3 separate regions of the Homo sapiens genome follow, and all the other regions are reported to be linked to region 2. The links are microRNA targets in miRTarBase. Many come from high-throughput screens and were not tested one by one. Region 2 holds a microRNA gene; each other region holds the end of a gene's coding sequence.
What was found. The annotated mature microRNA hsa-miR-606 reads AAACUACUGAAAAUCAAAGAU and lies in region 2 at 4,037-4,057, shown strand. An mRNA with a match to its seed (bases 2 to 7 or 8) in the 3' UTR can be bound and repressed. Matches are read on the target gene's strand: a 7mer-m8 pairs with bases 2 to 8, a 7mer-A1 pairs with bases 2 to 7 and ends in A, and an 8mer does both.

Region 1 (7,126 bases), not on the chromosome of region 2:
AGGGGAGCTCCAGGTGTCTCTGTCATATCAGCCTGTGGCACAGAGAATGACAGTGGTGGTCCTCAAAGCCAGACACTTGCCGAAGATGGATATCACCGGTCTCTCAGGTAGCAGCTATTTACTTCAACCTATTTCTTACTGTCTGAACCATCCCCGACTCCTTGCCTGTGGCCCAGATAGACCTCCACACTTCAAGATCCTTGCCTCTTTCACTTTTAATCTGCTCCTCTTTCTGTAGACATTCTCTTCCTGATGAGTATCTACGTCCAATAGATTTCCCTGGCTAGGAAGATTCTTCAGTTGAACAAATGGGGTCTTTACATTTGGCAAGGTATCCTAAATAATATTCATGCCAGGTGCTAAGAGAGACTTCTCAAAAAGGCTGCAGGCATTTGTCTCTGTGCCCTTTAATATACTTCTTGGTATCATGGGATTTCTTCAGACCTAACCTGAGAAAGTTGTTCTGTTCTATTCCTGCTTGGTTTCCTTGGCCCCTCATCCAGGCAGGCAGACTCACATATAGTCAGTGTGTGTTTATTGTGCAATCACTAAAGAACACATGGGATGGCCATCAAAGATACGAACAACAGAGCCCCCCCTTTCCCAACATGAAATTACCATTACATAGGAGAGGACTGTGTCATAGGTCTGTCTCCCTTTTTCTTATCTCTTTGGGGGCCCCAGATCCTTATGTCAAGGTGAACGTCTACTACGGCAGAAAGCGCATTGCCAAGAAGAAAACCCATGTGAAGAAGTGCACTTTGAACCCCATCTTCAATGAATCTTTCATCTACGACATCCCCACTGACCTCCTGCCTGATATCAGCATCGAGTTCCTCGTTATCGACTTCGATCGCACCACCAAGAATGAGGTGGTGGGGAGGCTGATCCTGGGGGCACACAGTGTCACAGCCAGTGGTGCTGAACACTGGAGAGAGGTCTGCGAGAGCCCCCGCAAGCCTGTGGCCAAGTGGCACAGTCTGAGCGAGTACTAATCCTGTTCTTCTCTCCTCTAATCCCCGGGGGCCAAGCTGGGGAGGGATGTGGAGGGGAAAAAGATGACAGAGAAGTGGACTCCAAACCTCATTTTAGTTGTAGAAGAAAATTTCTTACAAAACAAATTCCACAAAGAACACCCTATATGACCACAGCTGCAGATCAGTTCTTAGCAATGATGTTTTTTTTTCTGCTTTGCAAGGCGCTAGAATCTTTTATTTTACTTTATTTTTTTTGAGGTGGAGTTTCGCTCTTGTTGCCCGGGCTGGAGTGCAATGGTGAGATCTCAACTCACTGCAACCTCTGCCCTCCAGGTTCAAGTGATTCTCCTCCCTCAGCCTCCCAAGTAGCTGGGATTACAGGCACCCACGAGCATGCCCGGCTAATTTTTTGTATTTTCAGTAGAGATGGGTTTCACCATGTTGGCCAGGCTGGTCTCGAATTCCAGACCTCAGGTGATCCACCCGCCTCGGCCTCCCAAAGTGCTGGGATTACAGGTGCGAGCCACCGTGCCCGGCCTCTGGTTTTGTTTTGTTTTTTTTTTTTAATGGGGGACAAAAGAGAGGGAAAGACCCCTATAAATCTATATATAACAATGTAACCATATACTTGCATGTCTAATACAAACTGAAGAAATTAGCCTAACTGCCAATATCAAGTTGCAGATTTTAATCCATGGAAATTGTGTTTTGTGCTGAATTGTATTTGCTGATTACCTGAAATTGGCTTCTTTTTATTGGGCTTCTCTGGAGAATTTCTCCCACTCCCCACCTCTGCAGAAGAAAATTTTGCTCTTATAAAACCTCATGTTTTCATCATTCCCATCTTTTCTTTTTATTGCCTCTTATATCTCTGCTCTTTGACCTCAAGGTCTAGAGGTCTGCAGTAAGCCAAGAAACAAAGGTGGGGTGGATGAGGCAAGGTTTGCAGGAGAAAGAGGAATTGAGAAATGGGGTATTTTTGCTATCAGCTCTTCTGCTATGAAGTAGTAAAAGGCAGTCTATAATTAACTGACAGACCTAACTGAAGCACAGAGAATACATCAGACTTATGCATCCAAGACATCAGAACTTGGATTTTATCAAACTTGATGACTTCTCTAAAAGGAGCTTTGGAAACTTCAAATTCAGCTATAGGATAGTACCAATGAACACATCCAGCTGATCCCAAAAGCTGTTTTCAGGTATAAGGACAAGGAGAGGAGACAAGTGACGACAGCCATTCCCCTTTGCAGCTATCTACTGTAGTGACAGCCATTTCTTGGTTGATGGGTTGGAAGTCATCAGAGGTTTGAAGAATTACACTGGCCTTTGTTTTTCTGGAAATGCCGACCATGGAGATGCTTTAGAGTCTTCTCAAATAGCTTAGATGTTGTAATGAGGTTAGCTTTGCTTCATAAAACAGGGGCCCTCAGAAGTTCTCCTTAAATTTTTCAATAAAAATTTAGCTCTTAAAAAAATAACAGTGTGACTGAGTGAATGAAGATAAGTTGGATTCTTTCAGAGCATTCTTTTCCTCAAAACGAGCTGCATAATTCTTGGAATTTATGTCTTACCACATGGTGGAGGGATGGAGGAACTACAGGATGCAATTCTTCTTCTACCAATGGGCAATAGAGGTTGAGAGAGATTCAGCATCTTTCTGGGATTAGAATTCAAGTCTCTTTACTCCTACAGCAGCTGTGTCTCCAACGTTGAGACTTTGCAGATGGCACAGACTCCATGGATAATAGGTAAACTTGGGGCCGGGCGCAGTGGCTCACGCCTGTAATCCCAGTATTTTGGGAGGCCGAGGTGGAAAGATCGCTTGAGCCCAGGAGTTCAAGACCAGCCTGGGCTACATGACGAAACTCCATCTCTATCAAAAATACAAAAAATTAACTAGGTGTGGTGCTGCACGCCTGTGGTCCCAGCTATTCAGGAGGCTGAGGTGGGAGGATCATTTGAGCCCAGAGGTAGAGGCTGCAGTGAGCCATGATCATGCCACTGCACTCTGGGCTGGGTAACAGAGTGAGATCCTGTCTCAAAAATTAATTAATTAATTAATTAAAATAAACTAGGTAAACTTGGATAGGCAGTAGATATTTTTGCCCACCTGAGGAGGAACTCAGTCAAGCTGTTGCTTAACAGCTTGATCCAGGGCGTGAAAGGTTAGTTGAGACTGAAGTGTTCACTTCCATAGAAGAACATCACTTTTAACCTTGCTTTGGCGAAGGGAGTCGGAAAGCTGAGTCTCTATGGACGGGGGGGTGATCTTGCTTTCAGTGTTCCCTCAGCTTTTGTGGATTTAAAACCATTCTGCTCCCCCTAAACCTTTTGTTTGATTTCAGCCCATGTTCTTGACAATGCAGAGCAATTCTGAGCAGTCACAAAGCCTACTCTCTGTTCTTGTCCCTGCCAACCCCCACCCCCCATAATCTGACTCACAACTTCACCATCAGTTGGGGTCATACCACTAGTCTCTGTCCTATACCCCATGAAATGTAAATACTGTATCATAAGTAGAAGAAAATAATTTTTGTTTTCTAAAAATGCATTTTGAGATAGTTTAATGTAAATCTGACAGGAGCATTCTGAAGCCCCATTAGGAAAAAATTTAAATGGTTCCTCTTCATCGCCTTAATGTCTAAAGATCAGAAATCGCTGAGCAAACCCGCTTTTGTTTCCTTCCCAGAAACAATGCAAAACAACAGGTGGAGATAGTCTGGTCTTTGCCCTGCTGTGTGTGCCTCTGTAGCTCCTCCTGACAAACGTCTGGGAAAACAGCCTCACCCCACTCTCCTCTCTCTTCCCCATTTCCTTGTAGCTTTATTCCTTGCATCTTTGGGTCTACTGAGCAGTGGGTGCTGAGGTGACAGGGGAGGAACCAGTTGTTCTGTAGCCTAGGAACTGCCTCAGTGTCTTTGCCAGAAAAAGGCAAAGAGGCGGACAGTGCAGGGCTCCTCCCTCCTACCTCAGGCCTGATCCATCGTGCCCTTGACTTTGCCGTCTCAAAGTTTCTTAGCTGACTTTGGCTTTCACATTTGTTCTTTCCAGAGCTAACTGATAAGAGTGGAGGAGGAATGCCTTCTCCTAAGAGTCAGTTGAAAGAAAGACAAGAGAGTCACATCTTAGCTTTTGCACAAGGCATTCGTGGTCAGGAATAGGTTAGGGAATGGTCACTTCTGATTTTCCAACAGTTGCTCCTTCTCTGAAGAGATCTTGATTCCTTTGGGAAGACAAGAATTTTTCTTAATAACAAAGGTCCCTTTATGAGTTATTCCTTCTTTCAGTTCATCTCACTGGAGCACAGCCAAGATGGACATGTTTATGGACAGTGCTCTAGATGTGAAAACAGATAGAACTGGTTTGTGGGACAGGGGCAGCTTGCTCAGGAGAGGGAATAACGCAGGTCCCTTTTCTTGGAAGGCTTGTACTATGGCCATGACAGTGACATTGCCCTCACCATGATCCCTCTCCAAAGTGGTTGTCTTTCTTTACCTTGTGTCTTCTCTTGTAAAAATGAAACTCAAAAATAAAATAAATGTGTCAAATTTTGAAAAAAAAAGAAAACTGAAAAAGCTAACATGAATTGTGTGAAATTGCATAATGCTGTAATGCTAATCTACAATATGTAATGCTATCTTGTATGTTGAATTTGTTAATGCACCACACAAGTGCAAAATAAAGACTGATTCACATTACATAGGCACAGTGATGTCAGCCTGATTCTCTGGAAAGCTGGAGGACTCTCAGTGAGGTTAACACTCAGACTCCAAAAGGATGTTCTAGGGTGTGTTTTCCAAACTGTGGTCCCCAGACCACTTGATTCAGAATCATCTGAGGCACTTGTTTAAAAATGCAGATTCCAGGCTCCCATCCTAGATACTCTCATTTGACAAGTGAGTTGGTTTGCTGCTTGCTGTAGTTAGGACTTCTGGTCTTTCTGTTTTCCTCTTGAAATGTAATTTCTGAGACCATCACTACCAGAGGGAGAGATGATGGTTCGTAGTGCTGAGAATCAATCTGCCCCTTTAATTGGAAATATTTATCCCAAAAAGCAATCCTGAGACAGGCCAATTCTGTTCCCTCATTCATTCATTTACTTTTTTTTTTTTTTTTTTTTTTTTTTAGACAGTCTCGCTCTGTTGCCCAGGCTGGAGTGCAGTGGCTCAATCTCGGCTCACTGTAACATCCGCCTCCTGGGTTCCAGCGACCTCAAGCAGCTGGGACTACAGGTGCGTGCCACCAAGTTTGGCTAATATTTGTATTTTTAGTAGAGATGGGGGTCTCACCATATTGGCCAGGCTGGCCTGAAACTCCCGGCCTCAAGTTATCCTTCTGCCTTAGCCTCCCAAAGTGCTGGGATTACAGGCGTGAGCCACCGCACCCGGCCTCAAGGCCTGTCAGGAGCTATGAAGGATCTCCCTAGACCTGAACATGGGAGGATGTGGGGCTGAGGCTTCTGTAGTCACTGTGCCCCAGAGAGGAGAGAGCCTGAGAATGGAGCCTGCACAGAAGTACAGCTAAAACAGGGGGAGAGAGAAATCAGACTCCATGACATCTTTGACCTCAGATGAAGCCGTGTCTTCAGACAGATCTGAGCCTTCTCAGTTCCAAGGCTTAATAAATTACCTTTTTCTTTTCTTTTTTTTTTTTTTTTGAGATGGAGTCTGGCTTTGTCGCCGAGGCTGGAGTACAGTGGCGCAATCTTGGCTCACTGCAAGCTCTGCCTCCCGGGTTCACCCCATTCTCCTGCCTCAGCCTCCTGAGTAGCTGGGACTACAGGCGCCCGCCACTACGCCCGGCTAATGTTTTGTATTTTTAGTAGAGACGGAGTTTCACTGTGTTAGCCAAGATGGTCTTGATCTCCTGACCTTGTGATCCACCCACCTCGGCCTCCCAAAGTGCTGGGATTATAGGCGTGAGCCACTGCGCCCAGTCAAATTATCTTTTTCTTTATGCAGCTTGCACTGGGTTATGAAAGTTTAATTTCTGAGTGAAACATTAAATGGCAAAAGTTAATGTTTGATGTTTGGCTTGAATAATTTTCTTTCTTTCTTTCTTTCTTTTTTTTTTTTTTTGAGACAGAGTCTTGCTCTGTTGCCCAGGCTGGAGTGCAGTGGCGTGATCTCGGCTCACTACAAACTCCACCTTCCAGGTTCAAGCGATTCTCCTGCATCAGCCTCCTGAGTAGCTGGGACTACAGGAGGGCGCCACCATGCCCGGCTAATTTTTATATTTTTAGTAGAGACAGGATTTCAACATGTTGGTCAGGCTGGTCTCAAACTCCTGACTTCGTGATCCACCCGCCTCAGCCTCCCAAAGTGTTGGGATTATAGGTGTGAGCCACCACACCCAGCCATAATTTTTTTTTTCAACTTTCATTTTAGATTCAGGGGGGACACATGTGCAGGTTTTTGTTATCTGGCTTTATTGAGTGATGCTGGGATTTGGGATCCTAATGATCCTGTCACCTAGATACTTAGCATAGTACCCAGTTGTTCGTTTGTTTGTTTTAAAACAGTCACTCTATTGCCCAGGCTGGAATAGAGTGGCGCAATCATGGCTCACTACAGTCTCGACCTCCTGAGTTAAATTGATCCTCCTACCTCAGCCTCCCACATAACTGAGACTGGTGCACACCACCATACCTGGCTAATTTTTTTTTTTTTTTTTCTTGAGACAGAGTCTCACTCTATTGCCCAGGCTGGAGTGCAGTGGCACGATCTCGGCTCACTATAAACTCTGCCTCCCAGGTTCAAGCAATTCTTGTGCCTCAACCTCCTGAGTAGCTGGGATTACAGGCACGCACCACCTTGCCCGGCTAATTTTTGTATTTTTAGTAGAGATGAGGGTCTCACCATATTGGCCAGGATGGTCTTGAACTCCTGACCTCAGGTGACACACCTGCCTCGGCCTCCCAAAGTGCTGAGATTACAGGCTTGAGCCACTGTGCCCGGCCACCTGGCTAATTTTTAAATTTTGTTTTGTAGAGATGTGGCCCTCACTATCTTGGGAAGGCTGGTCTTTTTTTTTTTTCCGGGAGACAGAGTCTTGCTCTGTTGCCCAGGCTGGAGTGCAGTGGCATGATCTTGGCTCACAGCAACCTCCGCCTCCTGGGTTCAAGTGATTCTTGTGCCTCAGCCTCC
Region 2 (7,126 bases):
TCCTTCCTCGCTAATTAGGTTCCTTCTGACCTGGACATCCCACAGTATCTTAAACAATGAGGGGTAGTTCCTATTTTCAGCACAGGAGCCCCAGATGGTCTTCTGCTTCTCAGAACTCCTTTTTGAACTCTCTGCATTCTTAAGCAAAACAACTCAGAACCAGATGCTGGGTGGCTCATTACAAACATGAAAATGAATTTTCATATTCCTTCATGTTATTGAAATATGTAATATTTCTTATCTCTTTGATCTCTGGCCTATAAAAAAGATCTAAGTATCTGTCGGAAATATACATACTCGGGTTGTATAGACCTATCTGTAATGGAGCCAGGAGCTCAGTGAAGTTCCATTTGAGGCAACAGAAGGAGGTAACTCCTCAAAAAGTCTTTTCCAGGAAGGTTAGTCAAGACCTATGCTGATCTGACCATGTTAAGAGTTATTTATTATTACTGTTATTAGTTTATTACTACAATTTCCTATCTTGGATAATGGTACAGTTGGCCCTGTATATCCACTGTTTCTGCATCCACCAATTCAACCAACTACAAATTGAATATTCAATCTGAAATGGAATCATACAGTATTCACCCTTTTGTGTGCCTAGTTTCTTTCACTCAAAAGCATAATGCTTTTGAGATTCATCCATGTGGTTGCATGTATTACTAGCTTGTTTCTTTTTATTGTTGAGTAGTATTCTATTGTGTGAATGTATCAGAATTCTTGACACGTTCACCATTTGATGGCTGTTTGGATTGTTTAAAGTTTTAGCTATTTTGAATAAGCAGCAATAAATATTTGCTCAGAATATTCAATCAATTGAATATTGGGATGTTTGATCTGGAATGCAGATCCTGCACATATGAAGGGCTGCCTGTAAAGGACTTGAGCATGCTTAGATTTTGGTATTTGTGGGGTGTCCTGGAACCAATCTCCCATACCAACAGACCACTGTATTTAAATTTGTTTTTAATTTTATTTATTTGTATATATTTTTAGAGACAAGGTATTGTTACATTGTCTAGGTTATTCACAGGCACAGTCACAGCATACTACAACCTCAGACTCCTGGGCTAAAGTGATCCTCCTGCCTCAGCCTCCTGAGTAGTTGAGACTACAGGTACATGCCACTGCTTCAGGTTATTTTTTATTTTTGAAGTCAGATTTAGTGAGATATAATTTATGCACAATTAATTCCCTTTCTAAGTGCACAGATGATTTTTGACAAATGCATACAGTCATGTAACCACCATCATCATAATCAAGACGTAACATTTTTATCGCCATAAAAAGTTTCCTTGTGCCCACTTTTCAATCTCCTTTCTCCTTCCTTGGCTCATGGCATGCACTGATGTAATTATTGTCTCAGTGGCTTTGCCTATCCCCAGAATGTCATAAAAATGGAATCATACAGTATTCACCCTTTTGTGTGCCTAGTTTCTTTCACTTAGCATAATGCTTTTGAGATTCATCCATGTAGTTGCATGTATCACTAGTTTGTTTCTTTTTATTGTTGAGTAGTATTCTATTGTGTGAATGTACCACAATTCTTGACACATTCACCATTTGATGGCTGTTTGGACTGTTTAAAGTTTTAGCTATTTTGAATAAGCAGCTATAAACATTTGCTCAGAAACTAGTCTGTCTTAGTGAATGTTCCATGGGCCCTTCAAAAGAATGTGGATTCTGCTATTGTTGGTTGGAATCGTCTATAGATGTCAGTTAATTCAATTTGGTTGATAGTGTTGTTCAGGCTTCTATATCTTTACTTATTTTTGATCTACTTTTTATATAAATTACTAAGAGAGGAGTATTCAAGTCTCCTATTCTTCCTGGTTTTTGTCTACTTCTTTCAGTTTGATCAGATTTTTCTTTATGTATTTTGGAACTCTGTTGTTAGATGCATACATATACATTAGTTATATCTTCTTGATGAACTGAGTCTTTGTTCCTAAACATATTCCTTGTTCTGAAACCTACTTTGTATTATGTTATTATACAGACTGGAGTTTTTGTGTAATGTTTGTGTTGTATCTATTTTTTCACTGTTAATATATGTCTCTGTGTTTATATTTATAATGAATTTCTTTTAGAGAGCATATAGTCAGGTCTTGCTTTCATAACGAGTCTGATTATATCTGCTTTTTAATTTGGAATGTTTAGGCCATTTATCCTTAATGTAACTATTGGTATAGTTGGTTTTGAGTCTACCATTTTGCAAATTGTTTTCTATGTGTCTTATATGTTCTCTATTTCCTTCTTTTCCTGCCTTCTTTTGAATTATTTGTATATATTTATGATTTCATTTCATCTCCACCACTGGCTTATAAGTTTACTCCTTTTAAAAATGTTCTAGTGATTGCTTTAGGGTGTACAGTATATATATTTAACACAGTTTACCTTCAGATAATACATTGCTTTATTTATAGTTTAAGAATCTTACAATGGTACTCTTCCATTTTCTTCTTTCCATCCTTTGTTCTATTGTCTACATTTTACTTTTACATATGTTATAAACTCTACTGATCATTGGTACTATCTTTTCTTTAGACAGCAATTATCTTTTTTTTTTAACCTGGGAAAATGTTTTTTTTACTTGATTAATAGGAAAATGAAAATATTCTGTTTAAATATTTTCTAGTTTAATCTATTTGCAAACTAAATATATTTTGCAGTCAGCTATCTTTTTTTTTTTTTTTAACCTAGGATTTGAGGAAGGATGTTCCACAGAAATAGAACAGTATGAACACAAGTAGAGCAACAAAAGAAAGTGTGGTTCAACCTTACCAGGAGATATGTAGGTGTAGAAGCACTAAAAAGTAAGACCATGGAGGGCCTGGCTTACTTGATATTTATTTATTTATTTTTTATAATACTTTAAGTTCTGGGGTACATGTGCAGAACATACGGGTTTGTTACATAGGTATACACGTGCCATGGTGGTTTGCTGCACTCATTAACCCATCATCTACATTATGTATGTCTTCTAATGCTACCCCTCCCCTAGCCCCCATCCCCCAACAGGCCCCAGTGTGTGATGTTCCCCTCCCTGTGTCCATGTGTTCTAATTGTTCAGCTCCCACTTATGAATGAGAACATGTGGTGTTTGGTTTTCTGTTCTTGTGTTACTTTGCTGAGAATGATGGTTTCCAGCGTCATGCATGTCCCTGCAAAGGACATGAACTCATCCGTTTTTATGGCTGCATAGTATTCCATGGTGTATACGTGCCACATTGAGTCAGCTATTTTTTTTGAGAGGCTAAAATTAAGAAAAAATTTGCTGGGCACTGTGGCTTATGCCTGTAATCCCAGCACTTTGGGAGGCTTAGGTGAGAGGATCGCTTGAGGCCAGGAGTTTGAGACCAGCCTGGGCAACATAGTGAGACCCATTCTCTACAAAACATTAAAAAAAATATTAGCTGGGTGTGGTGGCTCAAACCTGTAGTTCCAGCCTCTTGGTAGACTGAGATAGGAGGATTGCCTGAGCCCAGGAGGTCAAGGATTCAGTGAGCTGTGATTGCACCACTGCACTCCAGCCTGGGCAACAGAGTTAGACACTGCCTAGGCAACAGAGTTAGACCGTGTCTCTAAAAAATAAAAGAAATAAAAACAATCTGTCTTTTATTATCCACATTTTAATCATTTCTAGAGCTCTTTCTTTCTGTAGATCTGAATTTCCTTCTAGTACCAGACTCCTGCCTGAGGTCTTTATTTAACATCATCATAGTATGGTATGTTGGCAATGAATTTTTTCAGTTTCTGTGTGTCTGAAAAATTCTTTATCTTACCTTCATTTTTTAGCAGATACTTTCACTTGTATAGAATTCCATGTGGACAGTTTTTTCTGTCAGTGCTTTAATGGTGTCACTCCATTTTCTTTTGCATTGCATTCTTTCTGTTGAGCAGTGCGCTGTCATTCTTAGCTTTGTTCTGTGTTTTTTTTTTTTCCCCCCCCTCTGGCTGCTTTCAGAATTTTCACTGTATCCTTGGTTTTTAGTAGTTTTACTATGATGAGGTGTGCCATCCACCCCATCATAGTAAACTACTGAAAATCAAAGATACAAGTGCCTGACCACTTCTACCCCTCATCCCCTACTTGGGATTTTCTGAGGTTCTTTGAACTGTGGTTTGCTCTTTTTAATTAATTTTGGAAAATTCGTAGCTATTATCTCTTCAAACTTTTTTTTTCTGCTTCCTTTTCTCTCTCTCCTACTTTTGGGATTCAAAATATATGTTATACTGTTTACTATTATCCTATAGCTCTCATATGCTTTTTTTTTTCCTTGTTATTATTTTGGATCATTTCTACTCACCTATCTTCAAGTTTGTAAATCATTTTCTCTGCTGTGTTCAGTTTGTTGATAAACCTTATGATGAAATTCTTCCTTTTTGTTATCCTTTTGATTTCTAGCCTTTCCATTTGACTCATTTTAAAGAAAAAGTTTCCATTTCTCTTTTACAATTATTTATTCATTCATGTTGTCTACCTTTTTCTCTAGATTAAAAACTTAATTATAGTTATTTTAAGTCCCTATCTGATAATTTTAACATCTGCATCACATCTGTTTCTGGTAATGTTGACTACTTTATCTTTTGACCAAGAGTCTTCATTTTTTTTCTTGCTTTTTGTCTGATAATTTTTGATTCAATGCCAGATAATGCATATAAAAGAACAGTAGAGACTGAGGCAAATAGTATTTATGCTTGGAAATGGAGACTCTTCTGTTGGGATGTTAGTGTGGGTAGTTGAGTCAATGCAGTCAGTAATTGAGCTAGATCTGAGTTTTGTTCTATGACAGCTTCAAATTCTTCCAGTGGTGGCTTGCTGCTACCTTTGCTTAGTGGTGAGCCTGGAGAGATGAAGGGTTTTCCTCAAGTTTCCATTTCATCCTCAGCTTTCAGCTGGTCCCATATGCTTACTCTAGAGAATGGGTCTCTCTCAATGCTGTTGCCCCTCTTTGAGGGCTAGACTGCTGTTGCTTATTACTCAGTGTGAAGCTTGTGGTGTGGTGGAGGATCTCAGTCTTAGGTAGGCCCTGTGTATCTGGGTCCCAGGTATGAGACTTTTTCTGTCTCATATTTGTTGGGACTCTTGGGTAGGAGAGCATTTTCTGTCCCTCCTCCAGGGCAGCAGGCCTCTATATCTATGCAAGATTCTGTAACTGAAAAGGTTTTCTACCCCTTCACCCAGAGGCAGACATATTTTGCTTCTATCTCTCCTTTAGTTAAAGCGCACCTTTTAAGGAGGAAGTGGCTTCCTCCTTAGTGGCTTATGACTTCTCTTTTTTATGAGAGAAGGGCCTGGGAAGTAGGCAAGATTTCATGCCTGTGCACAGTGTAGGGGGCTCTCTTTTATCTGTTGTTTGGTCTTAATCTCTCTTGTGAGCACCATGGGGAAAAAAATGAGGAGTGAGTGCAGACTCTCCTTGTGGCTGGGGCTCTTGGGAATTCTAAACTTTCTTGTTAGCCCATATCCAACATTAAAAAATTTGTTAAAATGTTAGCTGTTTTCTTTTTATTTACTTTTTTGATGGCTACCTTTTCAATCTGTCCTCTGCTAAAGAAGAAATGCTTTGTGTGTTCTATCTGTTCTTGGAGGGACTAGTCACACTTTGAAATTAAGTTCACCATTTGCCTTGCAACCTCAGCTCTCTGATGGGTTGGAGAAAAGTTATGATTTTGTAGATTATCTGGCTTTTTCCTTTTAGTATGGGAGTGATGCTTATTTGTAGTTTTCTGCATCCTGAGAAGTAATGGAATTCCTAGATGATATTTTAAGTGACACTGGTCAGTTGCAGTGTGTCCAGGGTGATCAGGAGGATTCTAGAAATCCTTCCAAATGGGAAGCAATGAAACAAACAAGGAACATTTATACTGCAGAAGAGAAATGATGTTGGAGAGAGGAACATGGTGTATGATAGTCACTGTACATAGCTGTGAGATTGATGTGATGAGGTAGGTGTAGACTTTTACCTGACATTTCTAATGGCATTAATCAATTAACCGATCAGTTATTTAGCCCCTCCTCTGTGCTAGGTACTAGGAATGCAAAGACAAATGAGTTCCTATCACTACTCTTAGGAGCTCCCAATCTAGAATTATGAATTACAGCTAATGATGGTAATTATAAGGTGGCAGACTTCAGTTTAATCTAAGAAAGAACTTGCCAATGTTTAAAGACGTTGAAAGTGGGATAGACAATGTGGAACGGATGTGAGCTTTTAGAGTTGTAGTGACCAAAATTCAAAACCTGGCTGTACTATTTTCTAGAAGAGAGAACATAGGCAAGTTAACATCTTTCTTTGAGGCCTAGTTTCCTCATCTGTAAAATGAGGATGATAATACTTTCGTTAAAGGATGATTGAGTAGATGCAAAGAAATGAAGTATGTAATGTGTCCAAGTCATTTACTTTTCTTTTTATATTTCCTTAAAGTTGTATACTCTTGTCAGTAGAGAGATTTAAGCAGAATATCAGCCAGGGTGGAGTGGATTCTTGTTCTCCTCCATAGGAGATGGGACAGGATGATCTACTGGTCCTTTTCAGTTAGTCCTGAGGGGCTGGGATTTAAGCATCCATGGGTATCTGATGAGAAGGGACAGTCTCTGATTCTGATGGGGAGGAGTTTGGTGGGCCCTGGGCTGTCTGCTCTCCATGGCCCTATGAGAGAGTTCTAGAGAAAACTATGGAGCAACCACACTTTTCTTACATGATTACTAAGGGAGAAGATGCAGGCAGCTACCGGAAGGGGAGCTGACTCTTGGAAGAAGGGAAAGGCTTAGGGTGAATTTCTCATTTTCTACAGCTTTTCTCTTGAGTACAGCCTTCAGTCTGTGCCATGTGGGAAGATAGATAACTTGATAGAAAATATGTATCTTGGTTGGCTTGGATAACCAGAGACTAGAGTTCAGGACAACCTTAGCTGCTGGAAGGAGTGGGGTCTCTGAAAGGAGTGAGCCACAGAGTGGAGCCCCAAATTCCATGTATAAAATCTACCTAAATCTAAGCTGGACTTTGAACTTCATGTGTGGTGCAGATTCCACACTGGCTAGATAAGGCTGAAACAATTGAACTGAAATATGAACTGCTGCCTACCTTAGGGGAGACAGTGTTTTGCAGTTTGATTTCAG
Region 3 (7,126 bases), not on the chromosome of region 2:
AGAAAGATTCATAACTCTACAGAAAGAGGTAGCATTACAGAAAGATTCATAACTCTACAGAAAGAGGTAGCATTACAGAAAGATTCATAACTCTACAGAAAGATGTAGCATTACAGAAAGATTCATAACTCTACAGAAAGATGTAGCATTACAGAAAGATTCATAACTCTACAGAAAGATGTAGCATTACAGAAAGATTCATAACTACAGAAAGATGTAGCATTACAGAAAGATTCATAACTCTACAGAAAGATGTAGCATTACAGAAAGATTCATAACTCTACAGAAAGAGGTAGCATTACAGAAAGATTCATAACTCTACAGAAAGATGTAGCATGTAGATTAAAAGTACTTTAAATGCCCCTTTAAAAGGAATTTTATGCTACATCTTTCTGTATTTAAAGTTTTAGTAAATAATTCATTTGTAATTTCAATAATACATTAATTTAGTAAAGTGAGGCAAATCTCTAGATGAGCTAGGCCTAAGAAATCCATTTTAGCTCTATTCCTGCCTCTCATTGGAGATTCTGAACTTGACATGTTTTCTAGCTAGCAGGAAGTTGAAGTTTTCTGAACTTCTCAGCAGATAACTGACTATACATTATTGGAGAGTATGGATTATATGGTTATTTTTTAATTTTTAAATTTTTTATAAGGATGAGGTCTCTCTATGTTGCCCAGGCCGGTCTCGAACTCCTAGCGTCAAGCAGCCTTCCCGCCTCGGCCTCCCAAAGTGCTGAGATTACAGGCATGAGTCACTGTACTTGGCCTTTTATTTTCTGTATGTAATATTTCCATGTATATTATGGAATATATTTAGTTTCCCTAAATGTGGCTGTTGAAAGATTAGAAAATTTTTGTTAGGGTTCTGGAAGTAGTATCAACATGTTGATACATATCTTCTTTTTTTTTCTTCAGGAAATCATGACCAGATCTGAAATGGCTGAAAAAATGTTCTCTTCAGAAAAGATAATGTGATTGGAACCCGTATAAGAAATGTAGTTAAGCCTGAAGGACTATCCTTCATCAAGACTGAAAGTGAGCTTTGATTTGATATTGCCTAAAAATTTTTATTGTGTTATCTTGGAAGTCTGTGTATCAAAATGAAGAATTCAGATGGTAGGAGGTTCTATAGTCCTTTTAAAGCTGACTCTTGAGTGTCAGTTGAATATCCATTAAATTGGATTTGGAAATAACCTGAGGAAAGTATTATGATAAAGATCTGCACAGATGCCTCTTAGCTGATAGGTGGCAGGCCTGTGGGTTTGGGTTCTCCCTCTTTTCTCTGGAACATATGACAATTCCAGATTAAAGAAAAATGTTTTTTAATAAATACCCTTGGTCTTTCTTCTAGTCACCTTTGAGGTAGATATTGTGATTTTCTGGAGTATAGTATATCCGTGTCTCTGTGTCTTAGGTTTACTAGATGCAATAATACTTCTCTTTGACATTTGTACTGAAGTGATTTGATATTAAGTAAAACAGTTAATGTTTGAATATAGGCATATTTATAGGTTTTTTCCGCTCCCCCCCAACCCACCCTTTTTAAAAAATCTATACAAAGCCCTTGTTTGAGTCTCATCATGCACATCAAATCATGGAGTTAGGTCTTCTCTGAGCTCAGGGGAACACAAGTGCACAGAGAGAGATGTCTTGAGGGTCACTACCAAAGAATTACCCTCATTGTCCCTCACTCAGGCCATGTGTACATGCGATGCTGCTGAGTGTGCTGGGGTGGGTGGTGGCCACGTGGCTCCCCCAGAGCACTTCCTAACTGGCAAGCTGGGAGACCCATTACTGGTGAACTTTGTGGAAATTAGAACTGTATCTTTTACATAATCTTGGCATATTACATTTCATAATAAAAACATACATTTAGTTGCATGCTACATCACTATTGATTTTATAATTAATTTCTTAAGCTTCAACCATGTTTTATACCTTATTTCGTTACATCATATATTTGTAATGTGTAATATGAAATCTTTTGCTTTAATGTCTTTTTTTAAAATGTAGAATGTTCTAAACTTGAAAGGCAATTGAATGTAGTATGATGAAAATGTGAATGTTTTGCTGCTTTCATGACCAAAGATACAGGGCTAGTGGACATTTAGAATAATAATTAAAGCTAGAGTCTTGTATGTCTTTTCTTTGAAGGAGTTCTAACCTTGTAAATTGAGAATGACTTCAGAGAATTTTGATTAAGAAAACATTAAAATCTTAACCGGCACAAACACTCCAATTTTTTTCACTGTGAAGCCGCAAGCAATTTTTTTTCTTTTTCTTTCAAAAGCCTACCTTCTGAATTTATTTCTTGTTTACTCATTTCAGAGAGGGTAGTAAAGAAGATCTATTTCTGGTAGTCATATCGCTTGAAAGGTATTGGTAAATGTGTTTTCAGTCGTGACCATGTGGAAAGTGAACAGTGTTGGCAAACATTACCGAGAAAATCATGCTTTTCAAGATGCCCTTGCTTTGGGATATCCTTCCTAGGGAGAAAAAAAAAAAGTAGTTTAACAATTGTGAATTCCATTTCTTATTTCAGTTTCTGCTGCAGTAATGGGTTCCCACCCACTATAATTCCCAGCATTTATGTTCTGTTGTATTCTCCCCTTAGCCCAGTAACATTTTTATCTAATACCCCATTCCCCAAGTTTTGAGACAGATTGACCCCCTACTCATTATGTGGCTCTAGTTGAATTTTAAAATGTGGAATATTGGGCTTGCAGGCAGTAGGAGCTGCAAATCTGGTAGAGTGGGAGTGTGGAGTTAATGGTGAGTATGTTAATAAAGGGAAACTGTCTCTGACAGAATCTCAGTAATGTTTACCAAAACATGTCTTTCTACAGCTGGTAGGATAAATGATGCTACCCTGTAGCTCAGCTACAGGCTGCAGTGCAAACTTTTCTTCCATCCAGAGAAAGCAGAATTCCCTCCTAGTAACCTCATTACAAATACTGTTACTAGAAGGGCATGTGCTGTCTGTCACCTTCAGTAATATTTGTGCCATCTCTTGATGACTGATGACCTGGATCGAGTATTTCTATGAAGGGTCTTCTTAGGCCCCTTACATACGCAAGAGGGGTGCTCTAGTGCCATAGCTGTAGTTCACAGGAAGGACACCAGGAGAAGTTATACCTAGGGCTACTGAGCAGCTCATCATCCCTGTTTCTGCACAGTTTCCTGAAACTGGCCATCAGGGCCTCTGAGGCACTCAAATCAGTTTACTTTTAGCATGCCCCCATCAGGGTGGGTCTCACTGTTAGTGAGGATACGGGTCTGGTTTGATGTTTTTCTAGGCAAAATGCTTAAGTGTTCTGGTTATGCCATTCATTCATACGATGTGTGAAATTTGCTTAAAAGGGAATTTTCATGATTTGATTTAGATTAGTATTTAAATATCTGCTTTAGATAGCAATTAATTTTATTGTAAAAATAAGGAAAAATATGTGAATATGTGAATTTTTTAAGCCTGAGAGATGATAGAATGTTCCCATATTTTTCTTGTAAAGAAAATAATATTTTAACTTACACATCCTGTAGAAAATACCACCTTTTCCCCTTGTATTACAGTACAATGTTTACATTACTATACTGTCAAGCTGAAAGTATAAAAAATGTACATATACATTTTGAGTTATGTATCCTTTTTTTAAAAAAAAGTTCGAGTCTGTTGCACTAGGCTGTACATGACTAAAGTTGACAGATGCTATGCTAGATTTATAATCACTAGTTCTGGTACTTGTGTCTTTGTATGATCAAAGCATGCAATAAGCAATACAAAATACCAAGCCTTATACTTAAAAGAAGTTTAACATATTGGTTAATATACTGGTTAATATACTGGTTAAACATATTGAATGTATATAAGTGGCAAAACTAGATTTTTAAGGAAGTGTACATTATAATATTGGAGCTCAGTACTGCATGAAGAGACTTCATTAAAACTAAGAAAACATTTATTTGGGGAGAAATTTTAGGCATTTAAGAACTTGTATTTTTCTATTTTAAAAAGTTAAATTATTCCGTAATTTGGAAGAAGTTTCGTTGAATGTAGGACATAACCGTTTGAAGGGTTTTCATTTGAAAAATTGATGTATTTTGTGCCTTAATATTTTGTTCTTTTAATAAAAATGCTCTGAATTTGAATGATTGATTCTTGATAGTATTTATTGGTGCTAGATTATATAAATCTGTAGGACATATAGACATATATAGACTCCAATAGATGGCAGGACATAAAATTCTTAAAACAGGAGGCACAGCTAATCAAACATGGAAAAGTGCTCAACCTCAGTAGTAGTAAAGAAATGCAAAACAAAAGATAGGGGATAGTTTAAAAAATCAAATTAACATAAGTTTGTACTATGGTATATTTGTAAAATCCTTTTGCTTTCAAAGTCTGATGAAATGAGCACACTTATTAATGATGGTAATATAGTTGATTTCCTTTTTTGTGAAAAGTTCAACAATGTGTTTATAACCTTTGAATAATGTCAATTCTGGTGATATTTTAAAAAATGATTCAAAATACAGAATAAAGTTTCTCCACAAAAGTGTTTATTATAATATTAAAGTAGAAATAAAATTAGAGACAAACAATATCATAGTTAAGTGAATTATGGTTTAACCAGCTACTTTATGAGATATTGTATAGCCATTAAATTATGAAGAATTTATAATAAAAATACTTATAAGAACTGTGATGCAGTGGCACATATGTGAATGCTTATCTATGTAAAAATAAGGTAGAGCAACTTACTCTCATGGTTCAGAAAAAATGCATTCTATCTTCCAACTTTTCTGTAAAGTTACAGAATTAAGTAATTACATAATTCTTAATTACATAAATAATTACATAATTAATTATTATTTTGAAATAAAGATAATTTAAAAAAAAAAAGGCCGGGCGTAGTGGCTCACGCCTGTAATCCCAGCACTTTGGGAGGCCAAGGTGGGTGGATCACAAGGTCAGGAGATCGAGACCATCCTGGCCAACATGGTGAAACCCTGTCTCTACTAAAAAAAAAATACAAAAAATTAGCCGGGCGTGGTGGCGGGCGCCTGTAGTCCCAGCTACTCGGGAGGCTGAGGCAGGAGAATGGCGTGAACCCGGGAGGCAGAGCTTGCAGTGAGCTGAGATTGGGCCACTGCACTCCAGCCTGGGCGACAGAGCGAGACTCCGTCTCAAAAAAAAAAAAAAAAAAAAAGTAGAGAAAGGATTGAGTGGAAAAGCACTGGGGTGGCATACATGGTTAGTGTTGAGGCTCAGCCAGGCTGTGGTCACAACTTGATTTTAGCCTTTCAGAAACTTAAGACAAAAAGTTTATTTCTTGCTCATGTGACAATTCTTCAGTAGGTATAGAGGTGGGAAGGGCCACCCTCCTCCACATGTCCCTCAGACACCCGGGGTTTATTTCCATCTTGCGGACCCACCATACCCTAGGGCCTAATTTTTACCCCTAATTTTCTAAGAAACATATTCAACATAAATATGTAAAAATAATAGTGCCTTGGCCAGGCGCAGTGGCTCACACCTGTAATCCCAGCACTTTGGGAGGCCGAGATGGGTGGGTCACGAGGTCAGGAGATCGATACCATTCTGGCTAACACAGTGAAACCGCATCTCTACTAAAGATAGAAAAAAATTAGCTGGGCATGGTGGCAGGCACCTGTAGTCCCAGCTACTCGGGAGGCTAAGGCAGGAGAATGGCGTGAATCTGGGAGGCGGAGCTTGCAGTGAGCCGAGATTGTGCCACTGCACTCCAGCCTGGGCGACAGAGCGAGACTCTCAATAATAATAATAATAATAATAATAATAATAATAATAATAGTGCCTTAGACTATGTATCAGAAAATCTAGAAAAGTGTGTCTTGGTTCACAGCTTAATCTTAATTAATTTAAAAAATCCATCTTGCTGTAAGTAGATGGGACATGGAGAATTTTCTTCATGGACATTCTCCCACCTTTGACATGTGAGGAGTGAGAGGGACAAGATGGATAGTCCCAGAGGGAAAGGAAGGGCTGTTGTCATAAGACTGATGACCATTTTGGCAGACTTGGGAGCACTTGCAGAGTGCCAGGCTTTGGTAACCACTGTATTCTCACAGTAGCCAATGAAGTATTAGTTCCCTTGGTTCATAGATTAGAAAACTGAGAGAGAGGTTAAATAATTTGATAGTTTACCATCCTGGCAGGTGGCAAGGCTGGTATAATACTGGTGGGAATCATCCTAGAAGGGTTGTCCTCGAAGTCCTGAGGAGAGAGGAGTTTCGGTTAACAAAGTGCTGTTTGCTTGTTAGAGAAGGTTAAGTAAGACAATGTATCTAAAGTGCCTGGTGCATAGCCTTCAGGAGGCAGCTAAGGTTAATGTGAAAGGTACAGCAATGATTGAGGGGTGACTGAGACTCAATTGAAACAAATGGCATATGAAATTCAAACACATTCCAGGATTGATTCACTTGTATTAAGATGAAGTTACCCAGAGCAAGTTTTATGCCCCTTAAGTGATAGGGAATGTACAGCTACATTAACAGAGGTGACCTGATATTTACATCTGGTCAGAGGCTGACCTGATTTATATCTGATTTCAGATGTAAATAATTTTGACAGTATTTCCTTAAAATCATTTTGAAAAAACAAGAAGCTGCAATGGAAGTTTATGCACAGGAAAAAATGTGAAAGCTATCCAGCAGGTGGTGCCAAAGTAATGTCTCTTGAAGAGTTCTAATCTTTTTTTCTTTTCTCTAATTCTTCCCTTTACAGATTTTATAAATTTACTTACCAAATGCCACTAAACAAATTTGGGGATGAAGAAAAAAACTTAAAAATAATTCACACAGCACTGCCCTGGAAAAACAGTTATTTTGGTATATTTTAAAACTTTAAAGCTGGAAAGAGCCTCTAAGATCATCTTACAAATGAGGAAATGGAGGACCAGGAAAGTGTCACTGGCTACAGTTCCCTCAGACCAGGGTTGAAGACTGCCTCCTAGTTTGTTTTTCTCACCTCTGGTCCTTATTGTCAGGGGGAAAGAGATGCCACAGAAGGGTTGGACTGGGCATCAAAACTTGAAATACATTTTATATACTTTGGTGACCACTTGCTACGTCATTTCATATGACT

Region 1: miRTarBase lists SYT11 as a target of hsa-miR-606. The part of its 3' UTR that is shown has no 7-base or 8-base seed match.
Region 3: the mRNA of TMEM87B is a reported target of hsa-miR-606. Seed matches in the 3' UTR shown: 7mer-A1 at 999-1,005 and 7mer-m8 at 2,508-2,514.

The regions. Positions count from the first base shown.
Region 1 is chr1:155,880,514-155,887,639 of GRCh38, forward strand. It overlaps SYT11 (synaptotagmin 11), which reads left to right. Exons shown (of 4, transcript NM_152280.5): 3 at 1-110; 4 at 685-4,686. The coding sequence ends at 995. Among named protein-coding and RNA genes, the nearest start is that of SYT11, 25 kb to the left of the region's middle.
Region 2 is chr10:75,548,482-75,555,607 of GRCh38, forward strand. MIR606 (microRNA 606) reads left to right here and starts at 3,977; the gene lies at 3,977-4,072. The region is part of intron 2 of LRMDA (leucine rich melanocyte differentiation associated); the gene reads left to right.
Region 3 is chr2:112,115,166-112,122,291 of GRCh38, forward strand. It overlaps TMEM87B (transmembrane protein 87B), which reads left to right. Exons shown (of 19, transcript NM_032824.3): 19 at 919-4,149. The coding sequence ends at 978. Among named protein-coding and RNA genes, the nearest start is that of FBLN7, 20 kb to the right of the region's middle.